3 separate regions of the Homo sapiens genome follow, and all the other regions are linked to region 1. Evidence: fine-mapped expression QTL. A gene starts in region 1. Each other region holds a variant in brackets. All regions are shown on one strand. Distances are from middle to middle. Region 1 holds the start of ASB1 (ankyrin repeat and SOCS box containing 1). Region 2 overlaps RBM44 (RNA binding motif protein 44). Region 3 holds the start of LOC107986003 (a long non-coding RNA gene).

Region 1 (6,264 bases):
CAGGTATAAAGCACCCCCTCCATAAGGGGGCTCTTTCCAGATGCTGACATTGTTTTTTATATTAAAATTAATCTCTTTTCAGTACTACTGTACATGAGACTCAACCACAGGTGAAACGGGGGTGATGAGTAAGTGTCCCGGCTCTGCAGGGTTTGACAGTCCACTGAGTTGCTCATGCTGATCCCACAACCAGACTCGCCGCAGATCAACAAGCCGGCATGAACAGCTCTTTAAGCCACCACCCCAGTCTTCCTTCAGTAACTATCCTCCCCTGTAATTACTCCACAGTTGCGGTTACTACAGAGTGAAAAAGTTCAAAGTCGGAGTGGGAAAGATTCAGGTGTAGGGCAATAACCAACAGGTAAATGGCGGCCACAGGACTTTTGCTGAGCCCTCTTCTGGGCCCCCTCTGCTGGCCTCTGTGCTATCCATTCCTGGCCCTGCTCAAAGTAGACTCAGAATCTTTCCCCAGCTCCAGATTCAAAAGCAACTTCAAGTTTGTGTTTCGCTGATCAACTACTCCAATGACAACACAACTGCCCCAGGATAGCACTTAAGCTTCAACTGAAAATCTGTTGCCCCTCTACCCGAGGCCGAAACACACTGAATAACAAAACAGCAGTGCATGAGGATATAAAAAGGAGCCCTCAGCTGAGTGTGGTGGCTGCCGCCTGTAATCCCAGCACTTTGGGAGGCAGAGGCGGGCAGATCACCTGAGGTCTAGAGTTCGCTATCAGCCTGGCCAATATGCCAATATGGTGAAGCCCCGTCTCTACTAAAATACAAAAATTAGCCGGGCATGATGCCAGCACCTGTAATCCCAGCTACTAGGGAGGCTGAGGCCAGAGCATCGCTTGAACCCCCGAGGCGGAGGCTGCAGTGGGCCGAGATCACGCCACTGCACTCCACCCTGGGCAACAAGAGCGAAACTCCGTCTCAAAAAAAAAGGAGACCTGTGCAGCCGACAAAGCCAGTGTTTATTCCCCAGGAACTCTCTTTATACTGGGAAGTAGCTGTTGGTCCTCTTTTTCCCACGGAACACGCATCATTCCGTCTCTCACTCTCACATGAGATGACATCCTAGACCCTAAGGTCCTGGCTGTCTCTGAAGTCAAAGTCAACGCCAACCAAAGCCCAGGATGGTAGATGCTTTGTCTGGCTTTTTCTGGTCACTGCAGTATCCTCTGCTGGGTCTAGCCAACAGCAGGTCTTCAATACAAGTCTGTTAAATGATTGGAAGGAGGTGCAGAGGGAGGGATGGATGGAAAAGCCTATCTGCACCAGTCTCCAAGTCAATCTTTTAAGATGTTTAAGAAATGTATTGGTTTATTACTAAGTAGGAGAGGAACCCCTCCAAAGACAAATATAGGCATGTAAAGAAAGCCCAGAACACACGAAACTATTGGCGCGAATGGCAAGCTCAGAAATCCAGCAAGAAGGAACTCCCACCACACCACCGGGAAACGGGAACCTGTCCTGACCGCTTCCTTCACATCTGCATGGTAGGGACACTGCAAGGTGGAGACCCTAAGTAGGACAGTTATTTTGGAAGGTGGGTGTGAGCCTTTCTATCTGCCTCCCTTGCTGGTGGGCCAAAGGCCCCTGGACATGTTGTGTCACTGACGAGCTCGCTGGAGACGGCGTCCCCGTTGTCCCTGGTCTGTGCCTGTGGTGGGTGGGAAGGCTGCCCCCCGCTGTACCACCGGACACGCCGTGGGCGGCAGAATGGTGAAAAAGTGCCTGCCCTCCCTAGGGCTACCCTCTGGCTGGCTTTCCTGATCCGTGCGCTCAGAGCTGGAAGGTGGCCCACGTCCTACTTTTGCGGTTGGGTCATATCAAATCTGTATCGGCTAACGGGAAGGAAGTTACGAGCAAGTTCCACCGGAAAGAAAATCTAGCGCGGGGACTGCACTCGAGGCCGAGGAGAGGGCAGCGCGTCCGTGGTGGGGTCGCCCAGCACTGCGAGCCGCGCTGAACCCCACCCCCGGCCTGCAGGGTGCGGCTCCCTGGCTGCCCCGTGGACCCGGCCAGCCCGGGACGAGGACGCAGGACCTCGGCAGGGACGCCGGAGCCAGCCCTTCGCCATCCCCACACGCCCCGCGGCCCAGTGGCCGCGCGCACGTTACCTGCGGAGCCCGGCCCTGCCCGCCCGTCTGGGCTGCCGCCCTCCGCCATGGATGCTTCCGCCTCCGCGGCCGCCCCTGACCCGCGCACGCCCCTCGGGCAGGAAGCAGAACGACCCGCGACCACTTCCGGCGCCGAGGGCAATGGGGGGCGCGTCGGGGTCGCGGCTTCCGGCGGGCGCGCGCCGGCCTCACTGGTTTCCGGGGCCGCGCAGGGGCCACGCCTCCGCTTCCGGCCTCGCTGTCTAGCAGGGCGCTGGCTGGTCCCTTCGTCCGGCGGGAACTTCGCGGCTAACCGACTCTCTGGATGCCGGCCGCGCTGTGGTTTCCTCACATAAGAAGCCAAGGAGTCGGAAAGCCCGTTGCCTGAGGCAGCAGTCTGGGAATTTCGGTCCGGCGGGCCGTCCCCACCCACACGGACGGGGCGTGGCTTCTGCCAGATGTGGGCGGGGCCCCGAGGGCCGTGGCGGGCGGGACCCGGGCCTCGGCCGGGCTGGCTTGGTCCCCGCAGGTGCCCCCCGCTAGCCACGAGCAGCCCCGGGAGGGTGGATTCGGAGGCGCGGGGACTGGTGAGGGCCCACTGCAGGGCTGAGCGTCGCAGCGTGCTGTGGTTTTAGATGAATGCTCCTCCAAATCCCTTCCATGAAGCCCTCAATCAGGTCGGTAACTGATGACAGCCAGTGGCTGACGCGAAGTTCATTGAATAAATGAATGCATTCGTGAACAACCGAGTAACATTTCTTGCACACTCCCAACTTCAAATATCGCAGCGTCGTCCCACCATGAGTATTGGTGTTGGTCCTAAAGCACGGATTCCCTTGGCTCCTCCCATTCTCCCCTGCTGAGTTAGACAGCGGGGCCTCATGCAGGAGGAGGATTTGTACACAGCACAGCAGGAGGCTGATGAGGGAGTCCGGAGACCCCAGCAGTCGTGGGCGTGAGCTGCTGGCTCATCCGTGTGTACAACATTCCAGACTGGAGTAAGGGAAGCCGCAGGCGCAGCCCCGCGAGTGCCCCTGCTGAGGCTGGCCCTGGGTGGCCCAGATGCACCAGGGGGCCCACTGGGGGCAGACCTGGCAGGCCCTGTGGGGGTTGGAGGCGGGAGTGGGGGTACTTCCTACAGTGGTGTTTGGTCTTGATGACAGCAGAGAGCACCACTGGCATGAGGGACAGGTGACTCCGATGATGACGCTGCCAGGCCAGGAGCCAGGGGTGTGCCCAGCCCCTGGCTCCACCACAGCTGCACATCCCGAACTCGGAGCTTCAGCAACTCCGAAGCCTGAAGCCGCCTCACGTGTTGTTGGATGGATGAATGGATAAACGAAATGCCGTCCATCCATACAATGGAATCGTACTCAGCCTTAGAAAGGAAATGCTGTCCGTCCATACAATGGATTCGTACTCAGCCTTAGAAAGGAAGGGAATCCTGACACACGTCACAACACGGATGACCTTGAAGACGTTATGCTGAGTGAGATAAGCCAGCCACAAAAAGACAAATACAGTACTGTGTGATTCCAATTATTTGAGGTCCCTGGAGCAGTGAAATGGTGGAGCGGAATGGGGGTTGCCAAGGGCTGGGGGAGTGGGGAATGAGGAGTTAGTTTTTCATGGGGACAGAGCTTCAGTTGAGGAAGATGAAAAAGTTTTGGAGACGGGTCACACAGCAATGTGAATTGTGCATTAACAGTACTGAACTGCGCATTTAAAGCAGGTTAAGTTTTATGTTCTATATATTTTACCACAATTGTTTTAAAGAATTTTTTAAAAGAGGTTCCGGTGCAGTCAGTCAGGGGTGCGGGTTGGGTGTTGGGTGGTTCAGAGCACCCAGGTGATTCTAAAGTGCAGCCTGGTGAGAGCCACGTCTCCGGGGGCCTCCGCTGCTCTGCCTGCCTGGTCCCGGTGGGCTCACAGTGAGCGTTCTGCGTGTCGGTAGCCTTTGCATCAAGGTATTGAGTCCCTGAGCAGAGTGGCCCTCCTGCACCTGCACCTCCACCTTCCCTGCCACGTGTTGCCCTTGGGATCCTGCCTCTTAGAAGAACCTGAGGCCGCACGTGGTCTGTAGCGGGGAGGTGGCCTCACATGCCCACCTCCGTGCCTCCTAAATGCCCACATGGTGCAGGGCAGTGTCCACAGAGCCAGCAGTGCTGGAGGGGGAAGGACACTCAATTGCTGGCCACTCTGCCAATACCATCACCCCCATTTCTCAGGACCCTGAGATCTGGGGGCCTGGTGCTATGCCCAAAACCACATAGCCCACAGGTGGCTGAGTTGGGATCACATCCAGACTGTCCAGCCCTACAGCCTGTCTCCCCCTCTGACCTCACCTCTCCAGAGTCCCTCTTCTTCCAGGTCCTCTGAGCCCAAAAGACCCACCAACACAGGGACACTCAGTGACCGCTAGAGATGAAGCAACTTGGGTCCCATCACCTACAAGCAACAGGGATTTACCAGTGCCTACCAGTGCCATCCCAGCCCAGCACAGCAGCAACAGGACCAGTGCAGTGGGCTGTCTTGCCCCTCCAGGTCCCAGTGGCTCCCTCCCGTTTTCCCACCCCTAAAATCACCCGTCGCTTCCTGTTGCCTCCTGGAGGCTCAGGCCTCCCCCAAAGTGTCCCCAGTGACCCCTCTGTGGAGCCTAGCCCAGTCTTTGTGGTGGAAAATTTGGCAGTCTAGCTAAAGCATAAGAATGAATAATCCTTGATCAGAAATGCCTCTTCCAGGCATTCATTCTAGGGAAATAATCAGATGTGGGGGAGATTCAGCTACAGTAGTGCTCATTACCATCATTTTATAACAAAAATGTCCAACAATGGACTTTCTGGTTCAGGAGGTCTGAGAAGGGGCCCCCATCCCTCATCCTTCCTGTTGCAGGGAACTGGGGGCCCCTCTGGAAGCATGGCAGGTATATGGGGGGCTGGAAACATGAGCTCCACAGCTGCAGGCTGGTGAGGATCCTGCTGGGCCTGGGTGTGCTGGTGCTGCTGTCGCTTAACCCCCACAGCTGTCTCCGGGAATTGGGCAGCAGATGTCACCCAGGCAGGGACCAGAAATGGGAATCTCTCCTGATCCTAGGCCCTGTGGGCCTGTGTTTGGGGTGTCTCCTCCCAGGAGGCCCAGCCCTCTCTTCCCCTTTGAAGGATCTCCTGCTTTGAAGGAAGCAGGGGATCTGAAGGTTTACCAGGTGAGGCCACGAGATGAGGGCAGCCCGCTGACCCTCCAGGCTTTGCCCTGGAAACATCTTTACCAGCCCCTGCCCCGCAGACCCTGTCTCAGGCCTTGGAGCCCACCTGCAGAGAGTCAGGGTGTCTGCCCCAAGCTAGGGAGGCAGATCCACATCCTTCCAGCTGAGTCACCAGGACAGGGTGACTCCTCTGAGCACCAGCTGCCTCCCTGTCAAATCGGGCTGATAATACCCACTTTGCAGGCTTTGTAAAGACACAAAATCCCATAGAATGTGCCACAGGCTTCCTGGGGCAGAGAGAGCCTCAGGACACAGTGGGCATCGGTGCCATGGCTGCTAACGCTATGGCATGGCTTTGCTGAGTGGAGCCACGCCCACCTCCAGCCTCCCACCCCACCCCACCCTGTCCTAAACTGAGCCCACCTTCTCTGCCCAGCTTGGAACAGAGCAGGGCTCAGGGGTAGACGCAGTGTCCCAGCAGGCCCTCAGCTTGGGGCTGGTGGGGCTGGGCAGGGCCCAGGCCGTGATGTTCCTTGCAGCCCTCGAAGCCTCCCTCTTCCAGCCAGGTCGGCCTCTGCCTGGATGTGGTTTAGCCTGGCAGTGGAGGTCCCAGGGAGGACCGGGAAGCCCAGCTGTGGGGACTGCAGAGGACAGTGTGGGCCCTGGGAGTCCTGCCAAGGGGGTGCCCTCTTTCAGCCCCCCTCACAGGTGCTGTGCTGCCTCCCTTGGTGTGACCGAGAACTCCACTAGTGTCAGGAGGCCACAGCGCTCAGTGAGCCCCTGCATCCTCTACCAGGGCCTGCGTCTCTCCAGGCAGCACCTGTGGAAGGCAACTACCATGTGCTGGTCACTGCCACAGCGGGAGGAGTCAGAGGTGAGGAAATCTCAGTCCCAGAGCAGGGACTGGCAGCAGAGACAGGAGGTTTTTAGAGACTCTTCGGCCACAGCGGGACCAAC
Region 2 (7,238 bases), 610 kb after region 1:
AAGCAAATACTATTTTGATTTTTTCTTCCAGATGTATCTGTAAGCATATATAAATGATGTACCTCTCAGGATGTTTCTTTAGGTCTGTGATACCACATGCTTTTCTTAATTCCAGGAAATCCTGAAAATATGATTTAAAATTAAATTTAAAAAAGTTATATCTGAAATTCCAAACTAATAAAATGTACAATTCAATTTCTAATGGATTTTGTGGGAGGAGCTGCCAGGAGAGGAGGATAGAACTGGTGGTAATTTACACGTCTTTTTTTTTTAATTTACTTTTTAATTTACTCCCTTTTTAATTTACTCCCCTCATCTAGCATCTTCTCACAAAAGCCTTAATTCAACGAACCAAAAACACTTACATTAGCATACACTGTCTCTTTATAAAGTCCAAATTTTATTATTACTCATATTGATTTTACCTTATTTAGAAAATTTCCATTAGGTTTTAAACTGTCAACGGAGAGAGATTTTCCTGATCCTTTTGTTATAGCCATCTGTGTATCTATACAATCTTCACTGTATGACCAATCTGTACTACAAGCCACACTTTTTTGTTTCTCATTTTGCCATTCATCAGGTCGTTTTTTATTCATCATTGTTATCTCTGTGTTGCTTGATGTAGATACTACAGAAGGTCTTGCACTTGTTGCCCTGCTGGTTGTGAAACAAGCCCTAAAATCAGTGCTAACGTCCACTGTCTGATTAATTGTGACTGTACAACTTGCTGCATCTGTCAATGATTTAGTACACATTTCTCCTATATTGTGAAAGCATGTTTTCTTTGTGGTACTGCTATGAGCAACTTTTAGGGACGTATTATCTTCTATTGCCTGATTATCTCTGACTGCGATCTTTGGTAGCATAGCAGAAAAATCTAAGGCTGAGTCAGCAGTGTTTTGTAGGCTTTCATAATATCCACAGGCAGAAATTATCGAATCATCAAAAACAGAGGTCCAGGAAGTTTGACAATCTTTACAGGGTTGGAGTAATGTCTCTAAAGCTTTATCCTGTGGTAATGTGCTAGGATTTTCAAGGTGCAGTAATATTTTGTTCTCAACAATTTTATTTCCACAAAAATCTTTACCTTCATTTATTTGAGATTTCATGTTTTCAGTATAAATTTTCATTTTTAATACTTTTTGAGGGCTCAAGGAACCACTCTTAGATTGAGATTCCTGGTTTCCTGGAGAATTGCTTCTTAGTACACTGCCATCAAATACAGTGTGGTACATTGAATTAGTCTCTTGTTCCTTATACTTTTCATGCTTTAGGTCATGATATTCTCTTAACATAACAGAATTCTGAAATTTGGAGACATGAAGTGACTCTTCTTGTCCATAAACATCAAGTGAATCGAAAGAGATGATAGAACCACTTCCCGAGTTAACACGATTATCTTCTACATTGCTAGCACATTTAACTTCATAACCCGAATTTCCTAATTCAACAACTTCTGGATTAGATATATCTAATGCTTTTGTTTGGTCAAAAGATAAATGGTTACTTATGTATTCTTGTTCTTCTGCACTGTGATATTCCTGCTGTGAGTCTTCATCTGTATCATGCTTTTGTGTATCTTCAGCACTTTCTCTATAATTAGCATCTGAAATATTGTAGATTCTTTCCAAGCCAACAGTCTTATCTTGATGTTCCAAAATATTAAAAAAAACCTCCTCTTTTTTCTGCACTTCAGGATCTAATTCTGAACTTAAAGGAGTAAGACTTTCCTTCTTTAGTTTTGACTCTGAATAAGGTATAGAATATGTTTTATTCAAGAAAGCATAGTCAGTACTGTCTTCAAGTTCACTTGACTGAAACTGAGTACTCTCTGTGTTAGTATCTTGACTCACTGAAAAAAATGGCTCTAATAAATCCATTTTGTCAATATTGCTGATTTCTTTATTATTAGCTCTTTGCTCTAGTGTCGAAGAATTCCAGTCATCATCAGGAAAAGTCAATTTGACTTCATCACAACCATTGGAGGATAATAACAAATTTTCTTTCTTTGGATTTGAAGGTTTATCTGATTAAAAAAAGGATAAAAACATTAACAGCAACATTACAGAATCTAGACACTAGAAAAACCTTAGACATGATCTGGTTTAAGCTCTTCCCAATGCGGGATTACAATTTACATCATCCATGAAAAATATCCCTTTCAGTAGCAGCTAAAAACTGAACCATGTCCTCCCAAATGATGCCTTGAAGGCCAGACCCATATGTTGGAAATGGGGACTTGGAGAGGTAATTAGGTTTACATGAGGTCATGAGGGCAAGACCCTAATTATAGGATTAGTGTCCTTTCAAGAAAAGACCAAAAGAGCTTGCCTCCCCCTTCTCTCATGTGAGGACACAGCAAGAAGGCAGCCATCTACAAGCTAGGAAGAGACCCCTCACCAGAACCTGACCATGCTGGCACCTTGATCTCAGACTTCCAGCCTCCAAAACTATGAGAAAATAAGCACCTGTTGTTTAAGCCACTCACTATATGGTATTTTGTTATGGCAGCCTGACCTAAGACAACAGCTAAGATTTTCTTGAATTCTTTCGATGGGAAGAAATTTACTGTTTACAGGGCAGCCACTGTTTGTAAAATGGTCTAATAAGAAACTTTTTTCTTATAAATTTATTTAATAAATCTTTGGGCGCCTCCAGTGCTAGCTCTAGGCACTGTAAAAACAAAGAAAAAGAAGACACGGATGCTGTCCCCAAGTGCTTATAGTTTTCATAGGGTCATAAGGTAAGCACACAAAAATGTAATTTTAACACAGTGCTGACAGAGTTGTGTTGATGGAGCAGGTAAATTTTTGAAAAAAAGGGAAGCAGACTTCAGAAAAACTTTGTATTTAAAAAGTGTTTTGAAACAAAATAGACAAAATTATTTTAGGCAAATCCAACGCAAGTACAATTAGCCGTGTGAAAGAACATGGCATTTTCAGGAAATTTTAAGACTTGTCTGTAGTGAAAGAACTCTTACGAGTATGACAGGAATTATCAACTGAAAAAGGCCCTTTATGATGTGCTAAGAAGTTTGGCTCTTATTCTAAGGCAACCAAAAACCACTGAAAACTTCATTAAAGGGTAGTCATGTGACTGGAATTGAGTTGTAGTCATTCCTGGCAACAGAAAGATTAAAAACTTGAAAGAGGAGAAAAAAGGCAGGTACCAAAACAGAGGTGGGACTAAAGAAGAGACTGGTATGAAAGTTCCACAACTGACATGTCTTGGTGGCCAATTAGAGATGATAGTAAGAGGAAGAGAGAGAGCAGTGGTTTTCAAAAGATTTTTTTTTACTAAGATCATAATCGGAATTACATTTTGGTCATATCATGACCCAGTACACACATACATATATGTATGTGTATAAGTAAAACAAAAATTTTACCCATGTCCAATGTATTCTTGTATTTTCTATTTTATTCTATTCCATTTCTTTAAAAAAAATTCATCACAATCAGCTAAACTGATGTTATGACTTACCAATTGGCCAATAAATACTCACTTAAATATCACTCAAAGATAATGCTTACATGTTTACAACTTGGTACTATAGTTGAATGGGAATATTCAGGGCTAAAGAGATAGGGACTGTGTGAAGAGCAGATTAGAAGGTAGAAGGGAAAAATGAGGAGGACGATGAGGATAATGAGTTCAATTCTGGGCAAGTAGAGTTTGAGGTTAGTAATAAAACACCCAGATGTGAATGTCTGTCCAGTAAGCTGTTATAAATATGTGGTTGGAGACGACAGAGTTGTTTAGGAGTCTTTTATATATTCTAGATACTAATTCTTTGTTTTCTTTTTAACATTTGTAATATAACTGAATTTTCCTAGCTTATTGCTTATCTTTTAATTTTTAAAAATTATTTTAAGAGACAGGGTCTTGCTATGTTGCCTGGGTGCTAGACTTGCATCAAGCAATCTTCCTGCCTCAGCCACCCAAGTAGCTTGCCTGGCTTTAACTTTTTATAGTATCTTGTCATATCAGAATTTTCCAGGTTATTTAGTTAAGTGCATCAGTCTTCTGTAACTTCTAGGTTTTGTGTCTTTGGTCTTCTCTACCAAGTAATTATAAAAATATTCTCCTATAATTTATTCTAATTGTGTGTGTAGGGGGGGGTGGGGGTTAACACTTAGTCTTTTTACACTACACAGAGTATTATTTTCCTCTTTAGCATAAGGTAGAACTCTAACTTAACTTTCTTCCAAAATGGATGGTCAATTGTCGTAATACCATTTGCCAAATAATCCATTGTTTTCCTTCTGAGCTGAAACAACATCTTTATCATATTCTGAAGTCTTCCTGTTTCTGTTTCATGATTTTCTAAGAATTTATTTCTATTTATTCCACTCCA[C/T]TAACCTATTATCTTTTTGTATGACTGTATTACTGTTTTAATTATTATAGTATCACAGGTTATTTTTATATCTGGTAAGTTTTTTCCTGTATTTTAAAATTTATTTTACCTTCTCTTCAATAGATTTTTTTAAGTTTATTTTTGGGGGACCATTTTGAATTGCATAAAATACCCTATTGGGATTTACTGAGATAGAGAACCATTATCATGTCCAATCTCCAGTAGCCTTTCCCTAGATTTCCAACATTTAATGTATGAATACAAAGTATACTGTTTATTCCATTAGGGTTCATGAATGACATCTTCATTGTATAACTTTATCACTTTAAAATGACCCTCTTAATCGTCTTACAATGCTTTCTGCATTGATTATGCTCTTTACTACTATCACCCCAAATTTTTAAGTTAATTTGTTTAACTTGTCCATCCTTTTATCCTAAACCTTTCTTTTCTGTTTTAAATATGTCTCATGAACAATGTAGAGTTTTTGTTTTAATCTAGAATATATATATCTTAATAGTTTAAGCTACATACAGTCATAAGCACATAAAGTTTAGTCATCTTGCTTTTTAGACTCTTGCTATTTCTTATTTTCTTGCTGCCATGACCCAGGAAAAATACATTTCAGATTTATGGGAAGAAGAAAACATATACAACTTGGGCAGCAGAAGTCAACCTGCTCACTTTCTGATTATCACCCTGAAGGCAGTTATACCTGTCAGCAGTTCTTGAAAGGCTGGCTGGACAGAAATCCTTTCTTCCTGCTCACTTTCCCTTTCCTAAAGAAAGGTCCTGCCTAGACTGCCCTGATCCACCAAAAATCACCTGAGTCAATTTGGCAAGTTAAAAATATACTGAGTCTTACCACCTTAGAGGGAGGAAGAGTTAAAAAGCAGCAACCTGAAGGGCAAACTGTCTGGCACAATACATTTAACACCCTTCCCCACCAAGAATAAGGGTAAGTGGACTAGACCCTTACCTTTTTGGAGGTTGCCTCCATTACTGTGGTAGCCTTTACCAGATGCTGTCTCCACCACTGCAGTGGCCTGCATCATTCAAAGATATATAATCTAGAAAAGGTATAAATATTGAACTATTATTATACTTAAAAAGCATAAATTGACAACTACATAAAGGACAGAAAGATATGTCCTTTTAAAATTTCCAAGGAACATTTTTTAAAAAACCAATGCATTAGGTCACTAAAAGAAGTTTAAATCTAAAAAATTGAGTCTTAAAGACCATAATATCACCCTATTTATGTCGAACCTAGATAAAAAGTTTCCAAGACAATTTGTACACTTACTAAAAACCAATGACTTGGCAAATCCATACAATGGAAAATCTTTCAGCAACAGAAAGAAATAAACTATTGATATATGTTACCTCATGGGTTAATATCAAAAACTTGCTGAATGAAAGAAGCTAGATAAAAAAGATCACCTATTGCATAATTCCATTTAAGTAAAACGTCCAAAGCAAGAAAATGTATATAGAGAAAGTATATTAGTAGCTGCCTGGGATAGGTTGTGGGAGATGGGAAGAGAGATTAGCTATAAATGGGCATGGGGGATAAAAATGTTCTAAGACAGGTTTATGATGGGATGGTTGTGACACTTGATAAGGTTACTAAAAATCACTGAAATGAGTAAAATATAACTCAACAAAACTGTTTTAAAAAGGTAATAATGATGACTTTTTATTAATACATATTAGATGTACATATTTTGGGGGTACATGCAAGAATTTGGTACATTCATAAAATCAACTCAGGGTAATCGGGATATCCATATAATGACTCTGAACCCAGCTGCCACATGAAGCAGCCCAAGCTAATTACTGGTAGAATATCCCAATGGACACATGAAATGATCCCAGAGGCGACAAGCAGAAGGAAGTCCAGCCAACTCACAAAATCATTTTGAGCCTCTGTCCCCTACTTATTGTCACTCTCCATACCCCTAAAAGCTGAGGTATCTACAGCAGAATTCTGTTAATCAAGTGTTACAAAGGTTCCTGATGAATTTGGGGAAAAAAAAGGAATTCATTTTGTTTTAACTCTGAATTATTTCAATCACTGATCCTGAAAAAAATCATCTAAATGTACTGTCTCTGTTCTACAAGGAGAAGATATTAAAAAGCAGATCTCATGTCATGGAGACAGCCTTGAATCCTGACTTTGCCACTTAGTAAGCTATGTGGACTTTGATAATTAAAATAAATTAATGACAATAAGAATACAGACTACCAAAATCTACGGGACATGGTCAAAGTTACATCCAAAAGAAGTCACAGCTTTAGATGCTTATTATTAAATAAAGCTAGAAATAAATGAATTAAACAGTCAACTCTCAAGAATCTAGGAAAGAACTAAAAATAAGCCAAAAAAGTTTAAAATGTAATTAGTTAAGACAAAAACAGAAGTGATCACTTTAAAAATAGTAAAAATGGTAACTAAAATGGAGAGCTATTCTTTTAAAAGACTAATAAAAGTAGGTAAATAACAGGCTGGGCGCAGTGGCTCACGCCTGTAATCCTAGCACTCTGGGAGGCTGAGGTGGGTGGATTGCATGAGCTCAGGAGTTCGAGACTAGGCTGGGTAACGTGGTGAGACCTTGTCTCTACTAAAAATACAAACAATTAGCTGGGTGTGGTGGCATGTGCCTGTAGTCCCAACTACTTGGGAGGCTGAGGCACGAGAATTACTTGAACCCGGCAGATGGAGGTTGCAGTGAGCTGAGATTGCACTAATGCACTCCAGCCTGGGTGACAGCGCGAGACTCCAAAGAAAAAGTAGATAAAAGACAAGACAAATCTCGTTAAGAGAAGACTGAAACAAAAATGAGCATTGAGAAAAGGAGCATTTTAGCAAGCAATA
Region 3 (7,238 bases), 36 kb before region 1:
TGGCTGCTCAGGGTCTGAAGGTCAAAGCCGGAGTCAGCCCTCGCTGTTGCTGCTGTTCTGACATTCACCGACCCTCAGGTTGAAGTCTCAGAAGGGCCATGAGTCCGTTCTTCCCTGGCGCACGTAAGACAGGTAGGGGCTGACTCTGCCTTCTGTTCCTCTCCAGGGTGACTGTGCTTTCACATGGCTGTGATGGAACCAGGAGACATGATATGCAGAAGACTGGTCCCTGGAGAGCAGAGACTGAAAACACTGGAAGAAGGAGGGTGATGATCACTGCATGCCTCCTGCCTCCACAGGCAGAGGTGAAAGAAGAGGAACCTGAAACTGACCATTAGAATATGGGGCCCAGGAGACCCCGGTCAAAAGCACAGCATTCAGAGATCCAACAGTGGGAATACATTGGAACTCAGGTTTCCAACTGATAATCTAATCTTCAGGGGACCCACCTTGTGTATAAAGTTCTCTTTCCTGTAGGAAACAAAGAATAGCTTAAATACCTGAGGCCTTGATTCCGTTAGGCCTGTAACATCTCCTGACTTCCACCAACAGAAGCTGGAGTACCTGGGGGTCACAGAAAGCTTCTTTCCTAATTTTTTTAAATGTACATGAAAGTGAGTCACATAGGAAAAGCCTGCTGGGATTGTCCAGGCCATGCACTGTGTGGAAGAGGCAACTGCATGATAGAAATCCTGCATTTCTGCAATGCCAAGAGACATGGGGTCCACATTTTACCACCTCTGATGCCAGGGTGCGTCACACCAGCGATGGCGGTGTCAACTGTGATTGGCATAGTCAGTGATGTCATTTATCAACACTGGTATCCCGGATGCAGTGAAGCGTGGGCCAGACATGATGCTCCGTGTCTGAGCTGCATTGCGTCGTTTATCCCTCACAACATCCCACAAACGACATCGCATTGGCAGCCCCACTTTGCAAATGAGGAAACAGAAGCTCAGTCAGCTATAAAACGCTCCCAAGGCCCCCCAGCTAGGGCATATTAGCACCATAATCTTAGCCCCGCTGGCTCTGAAGCCTCAAGCTCTAACTAGGATGCCACAGCACCACCCTCATTCAGGGTCCTGGGTGTGGCGGGGAGCGGGAAGAGAGGTGGAGGAGCCATGACAGCCAGTGCTCACTGAGCATCTCTCAAAAGACAGGCATCGTAAGGTGCCTGCCTGCTGGCCCATCCAGCTGTCCTAACAACCCTACCAGGCAAGCACTGTGTTATGCTTCCCATATTGAAATGAAATTAAGAAAACAATCCCATTTACAATAGCACTAAAAGGAATAAAATACTTAGAAATAAATTTAACAAAAAAGAGCAAGACATGCACCCCCAAAACTATAAAACATTACTGAAAGAAATCAAAGAAGACCTAAATAAATTGGAAGATATCTTGGGATAATGAATTATTAGACTTAATATTGTTAAGATGGAAATATTCCCCCTAATACTCAATGGATTCAACACAATTACTATAAAAACCCCAGCTGCCTTTTTTTGAAGAAATTGACAAGCTGATCCTAAAATTCATATGGAAATGTAAGAAACCCAGAATAGCCAAAATGATCTTGAAAAACAACAAACTTGCAGTACTCATACTTCATGATTTCAAAACTTATTACAAAACAACAGTAATCAAGACAGTATTGTATTGCCATAAGGTTAGAAATACATCAATAGAATTGAGAGTCCAAAATAAAACCTTATATTAATGGTCAATTGATTTTCCTTTTTTTTTTTTTTTTTTTTTGAAATGGAGTGTCCCTCTGTCCCCCAGGCTGGAGTGCAGTAGTGCACTCTTGGCTCACTACAACCTCCACCTCCTGGGTTCAAGCAATTCTCCTGCCTCAGCCTCCCGAGTAGCTGGGATTATAGGCACCCATCACCACCCCCAGCTAATTTGTATTTTTAGTAGAGATGGGGTTTCACCATGTTAGCCAGGCTGATCTCAAACTCCTGACCTCAGGTGATCCACCTGGCTTGGCCTCCCAAAGTGCTGGAATTACAGGTGTGAGCCACCACACCCAGCCATGGTCAACTGATTTTTGACAAGGGCACCAAGACAACTCAATAGAGGAAAGAATAGACTATTCAACAAAAATAATTGCTGGGAAAACTGGATATCTACATACAAAAGAATGAAGTTAGGCCCCCTACCTTACACCATATGTACACATTAATTCAGAGTGGATCAAAGACATAAAATGTAACAACTAAGAGACTATAAGACTTGGAAGAAAGCATGGGAGTAAACCTTCATGATCTTGGATCGAGCAATGGATTCTTAGATCTGACATCAAAAGCACAAGTAAAAATGAAAAATAGATAAGTTGGACTTCTTCAAAATTAAATGCCTTTGTGCTTCAAAGAACATCATGAAGAAAGTTAAAAGAAAACCTACAGAATGGGAGAAAATATTTGCAAATCAAATATCTGATAAGAGAATCATATCCAAAATATATAAAGACCTCTTCTAAGTAACAATAAAAAGACAACTCAATTTTAAAACGTGCAAAGGATCTAAACATACATTTCTCAAAGGACATATGTAAACAGCCAAAGAGCACATGAAAAGATGTGTGGTAGTATCACTCACTAGGGAAATGCAAATCAAAACCACAGTGAGATACCAATTCATCCCCACTAGGGGGAGTAAAATCAAAAAGACAGACAATAACAAGTGTTAGCAAGAATGTAGGGCAATCAAAACCCTTGTGCATTGACAGTGGGAATGTAAAATAGTTCAGCCACTGAGAAAACCAGTTCAGCAGTTCCTCAAAAATTAAATATTGAGTTAATATATGACCCAGCAATTCCATTCCCAGGTATATACTGAAGAAAACTGAAAACATGTATCTATATAAAACTTTGTACCCAAATGTTCATAGCAGCCTTATTTGCAATAGCCAAAAAATAGAAACAACCCAAATGTCCATGGACTGATAAATGGATAAACAAAATGTGGTGCATCCACAGAGTAGAATACTATTTGGCCATGAAAAGGAAGGAAATTCTGACACATGCTACAACATAGGCAAACCTTAAAAACATCATGCTAAGTGAAAGAAGCCACTCACAAAAGGCCACATATTATATGGTTCCATTTACATAAGTATAAATGGGATAGATAAATCCATAAACACTGAAAGCAAATTAATTGTAGCCGGGCCCTGGCAGGGACAGAACTGGGGTGTGAGTGCGAATAGATATGAAGTTTTTTGTTGGGGGTGATGGAAATGTTCTGGAATTAGACAGTGGTGATCAGCGCACAACTTTGTGGATACGCTAAAAACTGTTACACTTTAAAGTAGCATACTTTAAAATGGTGAACTTTATGGTGTGTGATTGTATCTCCACAAAGGCATGTAATTCGCTGCCACCAATGGCATGGCCTTGCTCAAGAACTCTGGAGGAGGTCCAGGCATGGTGGCTGACACCTGTAATCCCAGCGCTTTGGGAGGCCAAGGCAGGAAGATCACTTAAGGCCAGGAGTTTGAGACGAGCCTGAACAACATAGTAAGACCCTGTCTCCACCAAAAACAAAAAAATTAAAAATTAGCCAGATGTGGTGGTGAGCAACTACAGTCCTAGCTTTCCGGGAAGCTGAAGCAGGAGGATCGTTTGAGCCCAGAAGTTCAAGGCTGCAGTGAGCTATGATCGTGCCACTGCATTCCAGCCTGGGTGGCAGAGTAACACCCTGACTCAAAAAAAAAAAAAAAAAA[C/A]AAAACACCTCTGCGGGTGGGAGGTGCTGTACTGGGTGTCTCGTACTGTGGCTCGGTCTTGTCCAAGACTCCTCAAAATATTTGTGTATCTCCCATACCCCAGGGCAGTACTCACGTAGTGGACATTGATCCTTTTGAGGAATGGCTAGCAAAACCAAGACTGCCTTGATCCCCACAGCTGTCGCTTGTCCACTGACTCAAGTCCCATCACAGTCCTCCCTCCCCCACCAGCCCACCCCTGACAGTGTAACTGGAGCAGTATTTCTAAAATACAGATTGGGCTGCATTACTTCCTTTCTTGAAACCCTCCAGCTGTTCCCCATAACCAGTCCTAGTTAAATGGCCTCATATTAGAATCCACTGGGAGGGTTTCTAAAACTATTGAGGCTCAAGCTCAACTCCCAGAAATTCCGATTTTACGGCTGTGGTCAGCAGGTAAGAGGCTCCCGGGGATGGCCACATCCTAGTTCACAGAAGCTGTGAATATGCTGCTCTAACTGGGGTTGCCGATGGAATTAGTGTGGCTATTCAGTTGCCCTTAAGAGAGGGAGATCATCCTGGATGATCTGGTTGGCCCAGTGTCATCACAGGGTCCTAAAAAGTGTAGGAGGGCAGCAGAGTGGAGCTCAGAGTGATGTGGTGTGGGGAGGACCCCCAGCCAGGACTTTGTTGCTGGCTGTGAAGATGGAGGAGGGGGCTACAAGGCAAAAATGTGGGCAGACTCTAGAAGCTGGAGAAGGCAAAGAAATGGAGTCTCCCTGGCATTTCCAGGAAACACACAGCTCTGCCCACATCTTGATTTTGGCCCAGTGAGGCTCATGTGGGGCTTCTGACCTATAGAACTGTAAGATAACAAATCTGTCTTGTTTTAAGCCACAAAGCTTGTGTCATCTGTTAGTAACAATAGGAAACTAACACACAGTTGATCCAGACAATGCCCAGGCATCGGGAGCTTTTTAACACACCTCAGGCACTGTGCAGCCAGAATTAAGAACCACTGACCAATGGTAATATTCCTCAGCTTTCAGCATTCACAAACACAGACTTCTCATTTTAAATAGACATTTTTAATGATCACCCATTTTAATAAATAAAACGTTTTTTCATTATTGTCAACTACCTCACTTTCATTTCTGAGAGGGATGAAGGGATGACCTTTTTGCACCCTTCACCAAAGCATCTGTGTCTGGTTCAGTGATGGCTAAGTCCAGCTAAAGCACAGGTCTCACTTCCAGGCAGTTTCTTTGCTTATTCTTTTTTATTCCTTTTTTAAACTAAATCAGAAAATTTTAGCCTACAGTTACAGGTTTTCAGAAATGACACCCATCTGTGAGACGTTCTGAACATTTGGATCAAACGTGATGCTAAACCTTTGGAGCTGTCCCTGAGGATGACTTACAGCGTCATCAGACACCACACTGGCCCCCCTCGCAGCCTGGAGACTGGGACAGAGCGGATTGGGGGAATGGCAGCAGATGGATTCCTTGTTCACTCTTTGAAGCATTTCACTCTAGAAAATATTTTCTTCATGTTCTGTAGCTGCATTTGGACATGATTTTTAAAATATGCCAATAACATCAATTTCTCCAACAAAAGGCAGTGGGTTAGAAAGAGCCCTTGTAAGAAATCCTGGTACTAGCCAGGCATGGTGGCTCACACCTGTAATCCCAGCACTTTGGGAGGCTAAGGCAGGTGGATCACTTGAGGCCAGGAGTTTGAGACCAGCCTGGCCAACATGATAAAACCTCATCTCTACTAAAAATACAAAAATTGGCCAGGCATGGTGGCTCACGTCTGTAATCCCAGCTACTCAGGAGACTGAGTATCACTTGAATCCGGGAGGCAGAGGCTGCAGTGAGCTGAGATTGCGCCACTGCACTCCAACCTGGGTGACAGAGACAGACCCTGTCTCAAAAAAAAAAAAAAAATCCCATTACCTGACATCACCACCAATTGTGGTCTCTCGCCTTGAAGCAGAAGGTTCACACCACTCCACGTACTGGATCCATCAATGAGGCACGCCCCAGGAACAAGCCACATGGCTCTAACTGCTTATTTGATTGTTTGACTGAAACTTGAACTCAGAAATGACCTACACTTAACAAGGTTGAGATGCTAGAGCTTTCCCAGCATGGAGGAGGGATTCCAGAGGCGTAGGGAGATGGGACCATTGGACTGGGTTTAACATGTGTGACCCGCACACCTCTCTCTCAACTACACACTGCAAGAAGGCTCCAAAGCACTCTCACTTTCACTTGGGCACTGAGAAATGCCTGGGAGCACCTGCATCCCTGAGAAGCTTTGCAACTGCTCTCTTTGGCAGGCAGGTGCGATGGCAGGGACACTGCCACTGAGCTGGGCTCTCTGATTTCAATGGGGATGATAGGGTTCCAAAGGAGCAGAGGCCAAATGCCAGGACTTGACCAGCAAAGACCAGGCGGCTGCGTCTGCCAAGGGAGGGAGCAGACACACGCTGGGGATCAAAACACCCTGGTCCGCAGGGCTCTTTGCCAGTGGCTAATTGAACATGGTATCCCTAGGAATACAAGAGGACTGACTGACGGAATAAAGCAGAAAACCTTAGGTCTGGGAGCCAAAAATCTGACTTGAGTCACAGCTGTGGATAGCAACAGCCTCTCTCCCAGTTCCCAGACCTAGCTCAATTCACAGGCCAAGATTCTTGAAAGTAAGGCTGGGTCCCCTGAGGAAGAAGCCTGCAACACTGCTTCAAGCACATGACACGCCTCCTCCTCCAGCCTGCAGATCATTCCCCAGTGCTCTGCCGGGATCCAGGAGCACACCTTCCTTGCCAGCTGGCACAGGGCTGATGAGCCTGTCAGTGGGCGGCTCTGGAGGGACACTGGTAAGAGGAAGGGGTTTCTCTTCCTAGTTCCACTGTGCTTTCCTTCCTTCCGACTCCCTTGGCACTCGCGGGTATGTGGGACGCCAGTGGAGTTTACCTCCAGCAGGTTTCAGCAGCACCCAACACGGAGCATCCTGGCTGAGTTCTGCGGCTGTCCCAGGCCTCCCAAAAAGTTCAGCTGCCCCACAGGCAGCCGCCCAGCATTCCCCGGGAGCCCAGCCTGCTCCAGCTTCCCAGCAAGTCCAAAAGCATGCCCTGCAAGCAGCTGTCCCGCAAATTTCTTTGGCATCCCAGCAAGTAATTTCCTGCCCACAGCTTCACCCTACCAAACATGAAGCCCTGGCCCAGGGCAACCCAGTGAACTTCTCCACCCTGGACTAGGCTGCTTTCGATTATTCGCTCCGCCCATGAGAGTGGCTGTGGGACACAGGTCTGGAGGTCCTCAGCATTTCTGTGCACTGTCATCTCACAGAGCAGCTACTGAACATGTGTGAATGCCCGGTTAGAAGGGGCACCTCCCCTAGGTTTGCTGCAGTCTCCCCCACTCCCAACTATTCAGACCTAGTATTCCTGCACTATGACTCCTACGTGGCCCCAGCAAGTCTTACCATCAATGACACCGCCCACCAGCTTCTGCACTTCAGGG

The links. PIP is the estimated chance that this variant, and not a neighbour inherited with it, causes the effect. A credible set is the group of variants that fine-mapping cannot tell apart.
Region 2: its variant is the best candidate, but not a certain one, in a credible set for the expression of ASB1 in fibroblasts (GTEx, PIP 0.83).
Region 3: its variant is the best candidate, but not a certain one, in a credible set for the expression of ASB1 in whole blood (INTERVAL, PIP 0.88).

Annotation. Positions count from the first base shown.
Region 1 is chr2:238,422,982-238,429,245 of GRCh38, reverse strand. It overlaps ASB1 (ankyrin repeat and SOCS box containing 1), which reads right to left and starts at 2,319. Exons shown (of 5, transcript NM_001040445.3): 1 at 2,127-2,319. The coding sequence starts at 2,175. It overlaps LOC124908002 (a long non-coding RNA gene), which reads left to right and starts at 2,352. Exons shown (of 2, transcript XR_007088163.1): 1 at 2,352-6,264. RefSeq lists enhancers at 1,571-1,690, 3,203-3,738 and silencers at 1,941-2,460, 2,481-2,870.
Region 2 is chr2:237,811,784-237,819,021 of GRCh38, reverse strand. It overlaps RBM44 (RNA binding motif protein 44), which reads right to left. Exons shown (of 16, transcript NM_001080504.3): 2 at 5,340-5,430; 3 at 426-2,029; 4 at 63-121. The coding sequence starts at 5,412. Among named protein-coding and RNA genes, the nearest start is that of RBM44, 17 kb to the right of the region's middle. The variant C/T (reference allele first, on the strand shown) is at 4,361.
Region 3 is chr2:238,458,412-238,465,649 of GRCh38, reverse strand. It overlaps LOC107986003 (a long non-coding RNA gene), which reads left to right and starts at 4,787. Exons shown (of 2, transcript XR_001739969.2): 1 at 4,787-7,238. The variant C/A (reference allele first, on the strand shown) is at 3,730.